2 linked regions of the Homo sapiens genome follow. The protein of the gene in region 1 interacts with the protein of each later gene in a pairwise test. Each region holds a gene or a part of one and is shown on either strand. Other genes may lie near its edges.

Region 1 (3,514 bases):
GCGATCTCCGCTCACTGCAAGCTCCACCTCCTGGGTTCACGACATTCTCCTGCCTTAGCCTCCCGAGTAGCTGGGACTACAGGCGCCCGCCATCACGCCCAGTTAATTTTTTGTATTTTTAGTAGAGACAGGGTTTCACCGTGTTAGCCAGGATGGTCTCCATCTCCTGACCTCGTGATCCGCCTGCCTCAGCCTCCCAAAGTGCTGGTATGACAGGCGTGAGCCACCGTGCCCGGCCGATGTTTGCATCTGTAACCCTTTAAAATCTTCATTGATTAAAACATAGACTGGCCGTGCACGGTGGCTCACATATGTAATCCCAGCACTTTGGGAGGCTGAGGCAGGTGGATCACTTGAGGCCAGTAGCTTGAGACCAGCCTGGCCAACATGGTGAAAACCTGTCTCTACTAAAAATACAAAAATTAGCCAGGCATGGTGGTGGGCACCTATAGTCTCAACTACTTGGGAGGCTGAGGCAGAAGAATCGCTTGAACCCGGGAGACGGAGGTTGCAGTGAACCAAGATCGTGCCACTGCACTCCAGCCTGGGCAACAGGATGAGACTCTGTCTCAAAAAACAAAAAACCAAAAACATAGAGTGAGTACAGGCTTCAGGCTCAGTCTTGGCAGGTGGCTGTAGCTAGCTAGAGTTTAATAACACTATTTAATATCATTTAATCTGACATGATTTACTTTAATGGAACTGAGCTGTTTCCATTGCATTTGTTTTCATAATTCCATTTGTGGTAATTGATCTCATTTATAGTAGTGATATCAATTTTCTTTTGAAATGAATTTATTTATATACAAAAGTGAGCCATTTAAAGAAAACATTAAGTAAATGGTGGTACAGGCAGCGTGCAACCTATCATGGTGCTATTTTGTAGGTATGGTGAAAATCATGAAAGAGGTGAATGACTGATGTTTGGAAAACTCTGCAAGAATATTCATTCTGGATGGTTGGGCTGCCTGAGGGAGAGGTCAGGGTCTGCCTGAATTGGGCATTTTTGGTGGAGGAAGCAGCATGTACGGATTGGTGTGAAAGCGTTAGGAAGGGTGGGAAGCTCGTATGGCAGTGGTGCAGAGTACTGGGGTGATACAGAGGCCTTCCTCCGAGCTCAGGCTATGGACTTTGACTCCCAGGAGGAGAAACCAGGGGTGGATGGGTTGCAGGGAAGTGTCAGCAGGCCAGTGATTATCAGAAGGCTGGAACCACCGCTGGTAGAGATAGTGCTGTCCAGCGGGCAGGGCCCCAGGCCTCCCATCGTGAACTCTTTCCGTTGGTCCCCAGCTTAGGTGCAGAGCCACAGATCCTAAATCAGAATTAGCCTGAGGAGGGAGAAAGAAAGGGTTAATTCCTTCCCATAATAGGGCTCTGGTTTCTGGCCTTGGTCTCCCATCCATGCCCCACCAGCTCAGCTCTGGTTGCCACCAAGGCAGGATTCCTCTGCCCCCTTCAAAAGGGCAAACAGAAGCCCAGAGCAGTTTAGGGCTGTCATCCAGGTGCCACAGCAAGCTCAAGAAGAGAACCAAGGACTCCCGGGTCCTCTGTCATCCTAGCAGGACTCCTCCAACCCCTATCCAGTTTCCTAATCCTGGCCATGGGAGGTCCTGACTTCTGGGGAGGCATCCTGTTAAGCTTGTAGCAATGAAGAAAGTATTAGAGCTGGGCTCGGAGAGGGGAGGCACCTGCCCTGGGCACCCAGGAGCCGTACCTCTGGCAGGATCCCGGCAATCCCGCCCGCAGGCGCTGTGGCAGCATCGCTTTTTGCCCGAGCAGTCTGAGTCCTTGTGACACAGGTGGTTCATGGGGCTGAGGCAGCGCAGTTGGTCCTCTGGGCAGCTGCCCAGCTTCACTGCAACACAGGGAACTGGGTGAGCTCCGTCCTTGCCCACTGGCCCTGAAGCTTGGGGCTTGGATGGTCAGCAAGGTGGAGGGGAGGCATTTACCAGAGACCCTGGGGACACACTGGCGGAAGCAAGCTCTGTAGCAGCACTTCCTGGTCAAGGGACACTGGCTGTCTTCCACGCACTGGTCAGGCACCGATAGGAGGCAGGGCCCATCATCTGGCGGGCAGCCCCCCGATTTCTCTGTAAGAGAATCTCCTAATATTGCAGCTGGAGGAAGCTCACGGTTATGTAATAAGCGCTGACCTGGGAATGACAAGACTGAATTCTCCATCCCTTGCTTTTTGCCTGTCTTTTGGCTAGTTGTTATTTTTGTTTGTTTGTTTGTTTATAATGACTCCAAGCCTCAGTTTTCTGGCTGTGAAATGGGAAGCTGGGCTAGTTTGAGACTCAGATGGCACAAATGACAGGGGAAAATGAAGCCCAACATCTCCACTGTGGCCAATAAGGCCATGCCTGGTCTGGGCCCTGCCCATCTCTCTAGCCCCATCCTCTACTGCCCTCCCACTCAGTGCCTCCTGATCTGCTCCAAGCCAGCTCTCTCTGCAGGGCTCTTGCTCGGGCCGCATCCTTTGCCTAGTGCACTTCTCCTGTACTCCATGCGCCTGGTCAGCTCATTAGGACTCAGCAGAAACATCGCATCCTCAGAAGACCCTACTTCTCTGACCCCACATTAACTAGGTCAGCGCCCCCCCACCCCGGCCCCCACACACACACTCATTTCTTTCCTCCAGAGTTTGTGATGCTGCATCTGTTTGTCTGTGTCTCTCACTTGGCTGGAGGTGAGGAGAGTAGACACCCTGCCAGCTTTGCTCACCGTTGGTCCATATCACAGCCCTTGGCGCACAGCAGTAGGGCTCAGTGACTTGGAAAGAAAGGGTTTTGAAGTGAGGCCCAGCATTGCACGTGCGTCAGCAGTGGCCAGCCTGGTGCACTGTCACAGCCACAGCTGGCCACGTCTTCTGCACCGTTGCGTTCATCACTGTTGCAAATGGCATGGTTTCGAGGATCAGGCGTTAACTCTGTCTCTGAGGCGTTCCTCTGAATGGTATAGAGTGTCCTGTCCCAGAGCTTACCTAACATTCTTCTTGCTGGGATTTTGGGCCATGTTCATATTTCATGCACAAAGCTGGAAATCAGTATCCTCCTCCATGTAGAGGAGGAAATCAAGGCCTGAAAAGGGCAGTGACTTGTCCAGACCCACATGGGCTGGGCTTAGGACTCCCAGGGCCCGGCTCCCTCTGACCTCTGTGAGTGTCCACCCTGAGCTGTCTTTGAGCTGTAGGGATGGAGCAGGTCCCAGGTCTTCAATTCAATCCAGCATCAGAGAAAATGTTCAAGAGTTCCGAGGGGCAGCTGGATCTGGTTCTGTGACTTTACCTCTGTGTCCGCCCCTCCCCCTCAGCCCCCTGCCTGGGTGCTGGCTGCACACATAAGTAGGCACCTTGCTCACATCCTACGTGCGCTAAGTCAACTTCAGCTGTCACATCGGGTTGGTTTAAATTAAATTGCTGCCCCCTGCTGGAGAAAGAGAGGCTTGGCGTGGGGAGGGGGAAAAAGTGTGGGTTTGGGGTGGTGGGGGTGATGGGAGGGTTCCTGGGAAACTG
Region 2 (7,302 bases), on another chromosome or scaffold:
GGCTGAAGGGCCAAACATGCTAGCTTATTATTAAAGACTTCACCACAAGTCTGGGGTTCCATAATTAAATTCATTCATCCCCAAAAGTAGAATTAAGTACCAGCTTATACATTACCAGATATTACCACACATTTCTGGTATGGATTAACACTTTCAGATCTCTAGTAACTGTCTTACAGACATTGAATGTTAGAGCTAGAAAAGACTTAAGGGAACATCCAAGTCATATTTTAATAAATGAAGAACTTAAAGAAATTTGTTTAGATGCACATAACTAGACAAGGAATAAGTACTGATCTTTGAGTGAAAAAAGCAAAAAATAGAAGTGTGTATAGTATACTGCAATTTATGTTTGAAAGGGATGTATATGATATGTGCATATCCACAGACTATCTGAAAAATATGAGGAAAAATTGTTGCTTCAAACATAAGGGATTTTAGATACTGGAGAACAGAAGTAGGAGGAAAATTTACTTTTTACTAGATATCCTTTGCTACTCAATAACAGTTTACACATCTGTCACCCCCACTAAGAGTACAAACTCCTTGATGGTAAGGCCCACCAGCCATATTATATTCATCTTAGTAATCCAAAATGGGCCTAGCAACTGTTTCTTCATTTTTTCCAGGGAAAAAATGATTTGTTAGTGTATTTAGAAAGATTGTAAAGCTTGAATTTTGTGATAGGGATTCATTTTAAATATTTTATTAGGTGTTTTATTAACCAATCCTTTTGTAGCCTGTATACACTCTTGGCATTACCCTGGAATAGGATATTGCAAAATCAACGCACATTTTCTAAGAAGTAGAAAACTATGATCCAGAATTAAGTAAGGCAAAAGCAAAGAAAACAACTCTCAAGAAGATGGAAATTGAATTATTTACAGACAGAAGTTTCTTCAAAGTTTTCCAGAAGATACTTACATTAAAAATTGTGAGAAATTTGCCACTTCTCTCTCTCTCTCTCCAGCATTATGATGACATGTCCCTTAAGATTCAAATTTTCATTAAGTCCCTTTATACATTGTGAGCATGGAGTTCGTGTATGCCCAGCATTAGAACTACAGAGGGCAGGGAGTGGGCAGGCAGAATATTGAACAGACCTAAGTGTGTATCACACTTGCCCTCTAGTGTGCATTTGCCAACAATGCACTTCTCTGGGCTGTCTGGTTTTAAGCCTAGGGCGTTTCCAAACAGAGGTCTTTTCAAGCTGGTTTTTATAAACAGATAAGCCCCATTTATATTAATTCTGTTTACTGCTAATTTGTAAAGAGTGCTATTAATGGGCTTAGAAGCAGCGTATTCTTATTAATAGTTAAACATCTCCCTCTTATTCATACAACTCTTGCTTTGTAAACTTTCTTTCACAAAAGGACAAAGATAGACTTTAATGGTCCAATTAACCAATTTCTAAACTAATGAATTCATAGTATTTTAATACAAGAAATAAAGGTGCATAATTATGATAGTGATTTTTAAAATATTTCATACTATTACATGAAGAAGCATTTTCTCTTCAACTCAGAAGACTTCTGCAGGCTTTGTTCCTGTTTGCTCTTTACATTTACATTTATTTGTGACTACATCAAAGCAGCCCTCATCTGGCAGATGAAAAATCTCTACTGTAGCATAAAGCCTATAAATTATCAACTGTTTCCATTTAGAATATAATTTTGGCACTTATTAACAAAGCCTAACCAGGACTGAGGTTTATTCTAGCTCGTTTTATCATTCTCTGTGCACTGCATTCGCCTCATGGTCCAAGATGTGTGGTCTGTTTCCAGTAACATATCAGCAATCCAGCCAGAAGGAAGGAGGAAGGGGAAGACATATCCACTCCTTTTTAGGATTCTTCCTGGAAGGTACACCCATGACAACTATACACAATTGGCAAGAATGGCTGAAATGGCCCTGCCTGGCTGAAATGTCTTCATTCTGGGCTGCTCTATTCCCAGGTGAAGACGGGAAAACAGGGCAAGAAAGGCAGAATCGATATGGGGGACAACCAGTAGTCTCTCCCATAGTCTATGTTCCTACCAATTGCCTTTATTTGACAGATTCCACTATTCTCTATTTTTTGTTTGTTTGTTTTCTATAGAAAGTAGCATTTTCCTTTTCATTTGACTTCTATCATGAAGTTCTGATGTTAAAGACTGTTTCCCTTTTTTTTCCCCATTCTATCTCTAAATAAACTCAAGTCACTTGGCCTTGCAGAGTTTCACCAAGTTGGTGCATTGGTTCCTCCCACAGGTGATGGCTGTGCTGCCTGGCCCTCTGCAGCTGCTGGGAGTGCTGCTTACCATTTCCCTGAGTTCCATCAGGCTCATTCAGGCTGGTGCCTACTATGGGATCAAGCCGCTGCCACCTCAAATTCCTCCTCAGATGCCACCACAAATTCCACAATACCAGCCCCTGGGTCAGCAAGTACCTCACATGCCTTTGGCCAAAGATGGCCTTGCCATGGGCAAGGAGATGCCCCACTTGCAGTATGGCAAAGAGTATCCACACCTACCCCAATATATGAAGGAAATTCAACCGGCGCCAAGAATGGGCAAGGAAGCCGTACCCAAGAAAGGCAAAGGTAACATCATACTCCCAGGCTGTTATAAAACAACAGCTTTCCAAATCTCTAAATTATGGGATCAGAGGGGGAAGATAAATTTTAGAAGCTTTAGTTTTAGAATTTGTTACTGGCATTTTTAAAATGCCTACTGTGTTCTAACCATATTCTTGAAAACTTCAAGCCTTAAAGACACAGATAAGACTACCATTTATGTTTTGCTTTATTATTTTAACTAGCATCAGATGAAATAAAATATATTAAATCACAAATAGTCTATCCCCTTATTGTTTATTTATTCAAACATTCAGCAACTATCTATAGTGAGCACCTATTTGTGTCAGGCTCTGGGCCAGATGCTGGGAGCTAAAGCAGTGAAAAAAAAGAAAGGTGACAAGTCAGTCTTCTGAACTAAGAGAGCAATGTTGTAAGGACCTGCTGTGTTAAAAGAAAAGTCACAGGAAAGCATTTTGCGAACTAAGTATTAGACAGGTGCAAGTGTTCTTAATACTACTCTAATTACATATGTCAATCAATAGATCAACAGAAGGAAACTAAGAGTATAGACTGCATCTAGGGATGACACCTGAAAATCTCTCCTGTTGCTTTCTTGGCGTATTTATTTAGCACCAACAAAATGCCCCTCAGTGTGACAGACACTTGACGATAAATTCATTTGGTTTGTCTGGAGTTCTCAGAAACCTAGTACTTGCTGCATCAGAGCAGCAATTACCTTTGAGGAAGTGGAGCCAGTCCCACTAGTCCCTACAATGGCAGGAAGCTCCACCTCTGGAGAACTACTGGATTTGGAACTTAGAGGCCTAGATGCCTGGATGCCAGAAATGAGAGAGACCTAGTCATTTGACCTTTCAGAGCCTATTTTTCTTCATTTGTAAAATAAGATTGTTGAGAGAATCAGTGACATACATAGTAAGTAAAGTGCTGAGTAAATGCTAAAGCACCATAGGAAATTGGAGTTGCTACAACTGCTCATTCAACAAATCCTCAGTAAGAACAGAGTGTGTTCCAGGCTCTGTGCTAGACACCAGGGATTCCTGATTCATCTCTCCTACTCTTCCCCAGATAACTCCTCAATACAGTAACTACACAATTCGCTGGTTAGAAATAGCATGCCTGAATAGTACTATAATCATATCTATTCATGTAAAGAAAGTATTCCTGACTTTCTTCTCTTTAGGAGCTAGTATTATACTTAGAAGATTATCTCAGACATTTCTTTTCCTTCCTTTATTGAATGGCTTGCCTTGCCTTTGGCACTTCTTGTACTTACTCTGATGGATCCTCATATCTCGAAATGAGTTCTCTGTTTGTATTTTATTCTCTGACAGTAGCTCAGCAAAAAGTACAATGGTCAGGATTAAGGTGCTACTAGTGACATAAGTATTATGCCAAGAAGATATTGGGACCATATATTTCATTTCTCCATGTTATCCATTAGTCCCAGCAGCATGGGAGATCCAGAGTTGTGTTCATCTGAAAGGCACAGCATGTTCATTATAACAGCACGTGCTGTGTATTTCAATAACAATTTGAGAAACGGTGACACCTTTCACATCTATTCTCTAATCTTGTAGTGTGGCTGTATTATTCTTATTCTTGCTGTACAGATAGGCAAGCAGAGATGCTGACAGCTTAAGGGACCCAGTCACAATCTCACGCCAAGACCAGAAAGATAAGCAGAGCTTCTTGTTCCTAAGTCAAGCTCTCGACTTCATCCATACTGTTTATCATTCTAAAATATCTTATTCATCTCTCCTACTTAAAAGCCAGATTTGTATATGAGAAATTATTTGTTAAATTAATGAACTAATATTTGAGGCTTAGGAAATCCCACAGCACCTTCAAGAAATTAAGCAAATCTACTAATTCTAAAGGAGAGATGTGGAAAGATGTTATTGAACCACACAAAAAATAACTCTATTCTTTCCTATTTCACATCATACTGTATTTAAGCATAAGAGGAAATATCTTGGCCATAAATTATTATATTTAAAAACTTTGCCAGGCACAGGAAGAAAAATCCTGCATATTCTCTCTTAAATGTGGAATCTAAAACAATCGAACTCATAGAAACCCAGAGGAGAATGGTGGTTACCAGAGGCCTTGGGGTGGGGCAGGAGGGAGAGAATGGAGAGATGATGATGAAAGGTTTAAAGCCTCAGTTAGGCAGGAGAAATAAGTTGTTTTTTGGATATCTATTGCATAGAATAGCGAGTATAGTTAATAATAATGTATTACACACTTCAAAATCACTGAAAGAGTAAATTTCAAATTTCTCACGAGATAAAAATAAGTATTTGAAGTGATAGATATATTTAGCTTGATTTAATTATTCCACATTGTATTCATGAATCATAGTATCACTTTGTACCCCATAAATAAAATACAACTATAATTTGGATAACAACTCCAATATTGTTTAAAATACACACACACACACACACACACAGATAGAACAAATGAGATGAAAATATATATACATGTTAAGTGGTTATCTCTGAGTAGTGGGCTTATAGGCAAATTTGATTTTTCTTTATACATCTTTGAATCTTCCAAATTCACTATAATAAACACACCATAATATCTCCAAGTTTTATACTTGGAAAAATGTTTCTTCTTCATTACTTTTTAGCTTCTTTACTTAACCAATGTTGATACAAGCAGCTTCACATATCAGTTATCAAAAAAATACCTCAAATACATAAAAAAAAATTGTCAGCTTGATTTTTCTTTCTTATTTATTTATTTTTTTCCTTTTGGAGATGGAGTTTCGCTCTTTCACCCAGGCTGGAGTGCAGTGGTGTGATCTCAGCTCACTGCAACCTCTGCCTCCTGGGTTCAAGTGATTCTCCTGCCTCAGCCTCCCAAGTAGCTGGGACTACAGGCATGTGCCACCACACCCGGCTAATTTTTGTATTTTTAGTAGAGACGCGGTTTCACTGTGTTGGCCAAGCTGGTCTCGAACTCCTGACTTCAGGTGATGCATCTGCCTGGGCCTCCCAAAGTTGTAGGATTACAGGCACGAGCCACCATGCCAGGCCTGATTTTTAAGGTCTAGAAGATGAGCATATTATTCCTAGTCTTTTCTCTTGATAAGTATTAGGCAAATGTGTCAGAACTAAATAATGGTTGTCAGTACTTCATTGATGTGAGAGACAATCTACTAATCAATCTCTCTCTCTCCCCCCATACCCCTTCTCTCTCTTCTCTTCCCAGTAGAAATACCATTAGCCAGTTTACGAGGGGAACAAGGTCCCCGTGGAGAGCCTGGCCCAAGAGGACCACCTGGGCCCCCTGGTTTGCCAGGTCATGGGATACCTGGAATTAAAGGAAAACCAGGGCCACAGGGATATCCAGGAGTTGGAAAGCCAGGTATGCCTGGAATGCCAGGGAAGCCAGGAGCCATGGGCATGCCTGGGGCAAAAGGAGAAATTGGACAGAAAGGGGAAATTGGGCCTATGGGGATCCCAGGACCACAAGGACCTCCAGGGCCTCATGGACTTCCTGGCATTGGGAAGCCAGGTGGGCCAGGGTTACCAGGGCAACCAGGACCAAAGGGTGATCGAGGACCCAAAGGACTACCAGGACCTCAAGGCCTTCGGGGTCCTAAAGGAGACAAGGGCTTCGGGATGCCAGGTGCGCCAGGTGTAAAGGGGCCTCCAGGGATGCACGGCCCTCCCGGCCCTGTTGGACTGCCAGGAGTGGGCAAACCAGGAGTGACAGGCTTCCCTGGGCCCCAGGGCCCCCTGGGAAAGCCAGGGGCTCCAGGAGAACCTGGGCCACAAGGCCCTATTGGGGTACCGGGGGTTCAAGGACCTCCTGGGATACCCGGAATTGGAAAGCCAGGCCAGGATGGGATCCCAGGCCAGCCAGGATTTCCAGGTGGCAAAGGGGAGCAAGGACTGCCAGGGCTACCAGGACCCCCAGGCCTTCCAGGGATTGGGAAACCAGGCTTCCCAGGACCCAAAGGTGACCGGGGCATGGGAGGTGTTCCTGGGGCTCTTGGACCAAGAGGGGAGAAAGGACCAATAGGTGCCCCAGGAATAGGGGGTCCTCCAGGAGAGCCAGGCCTGCCTGGAATCCCAGGTCCTATGGGCCCTCCAGGTGCTATTGGTTTTCCTGGACCCAAAGGAGAAGGTGGGATTGTAGGGCCACAGGGGCCACCAGGTCCCAAGGGTGAGCCAGGGCTTCAAGGCTTCCCAGGAAAGCCAGGTTTCCTTGGTGAAGTAGGGCCTCCTGGCATGAGGGGTTTGCCAGGTCCCATAGGGCCCAAGGGGGAAGCTGGGCAAAAAGGTGTACCAGGACTCCCTGGTGTTCCAGGGCTTCTCGGACCTAAGGGAGAGCCAGGAATCCCAGGGGATCAGGGTTTACAGGGCCCCCCAGGTATCCCAGGGATTGGGGGCCCTAGTGGCCCCATTGGACCACCTGGGATTCCAGGCCCCAAAGGGGAGCCGGGCCTCCCAGGGCCCCCTGGGTTCCCTGGTATAGGGAAACCCGGAGTGGCAGGACTTCATGGCCCCCCAGGGAAGCCTGGTGCCCTTGGTCCTCAAGGCCAGCCTGGCCTTCCAGGACCCCCAGGCCCTCCAGGACCTCCAGGACCCCCAGCTGTGATGCCCCCTACACCACCACCCCAGGGAGAGTATCTGCCAGATATGGGGCTGGGAATTGATGGCGTGAAACCCCCCCATGCCTACGGGGCTAAGAAAGGCAAGAATGGAGGG

Evidence for each region.
Region 2: the proteins of WFDC5 (region 1) and COL8A1 interact in binary tests that used the Homo sapiens proteins (3 or more experiments, as listed by UniProt).

The regions. Positions count from the first base shown.
Region 1 is NC_000020.11:45,108,686-45,112,199, forward strand, and holds the end of WFDC5 (WAP four-disulfide core domain protein 5 precursor), read right to left. Parts: exon of another isoform or gene 2,182-3,514; coding exon of another isoform or gene 2,091-2,181; coding exon 1,950-2,090; intron 1,856-1,949; coding exon 1,715-1,855; intron 1,329-1,714; coding exon 1,324-1,328; 3' UTR 778-1,323; downstream 1-777.
Region 2 is NC_000003.12:99,788,430-99,795,731, forward strand, and holds part of COL8A1 (collagen alpha-1(VIII) chain precursor), read left to right. Parts: intron 1-2,250; 5' UTR 2,251-2,253; coding exon 2,254-2,581; intron 2,582-5,800; coding exon 5,801-7,302. UniProt on the Homo sapiens protein: Macromolecular component of the subendothelium. Major component of the Descemet's membrane (basement membrane) of corneal endothelial cells. Also a component of the endothelia of blood vessels.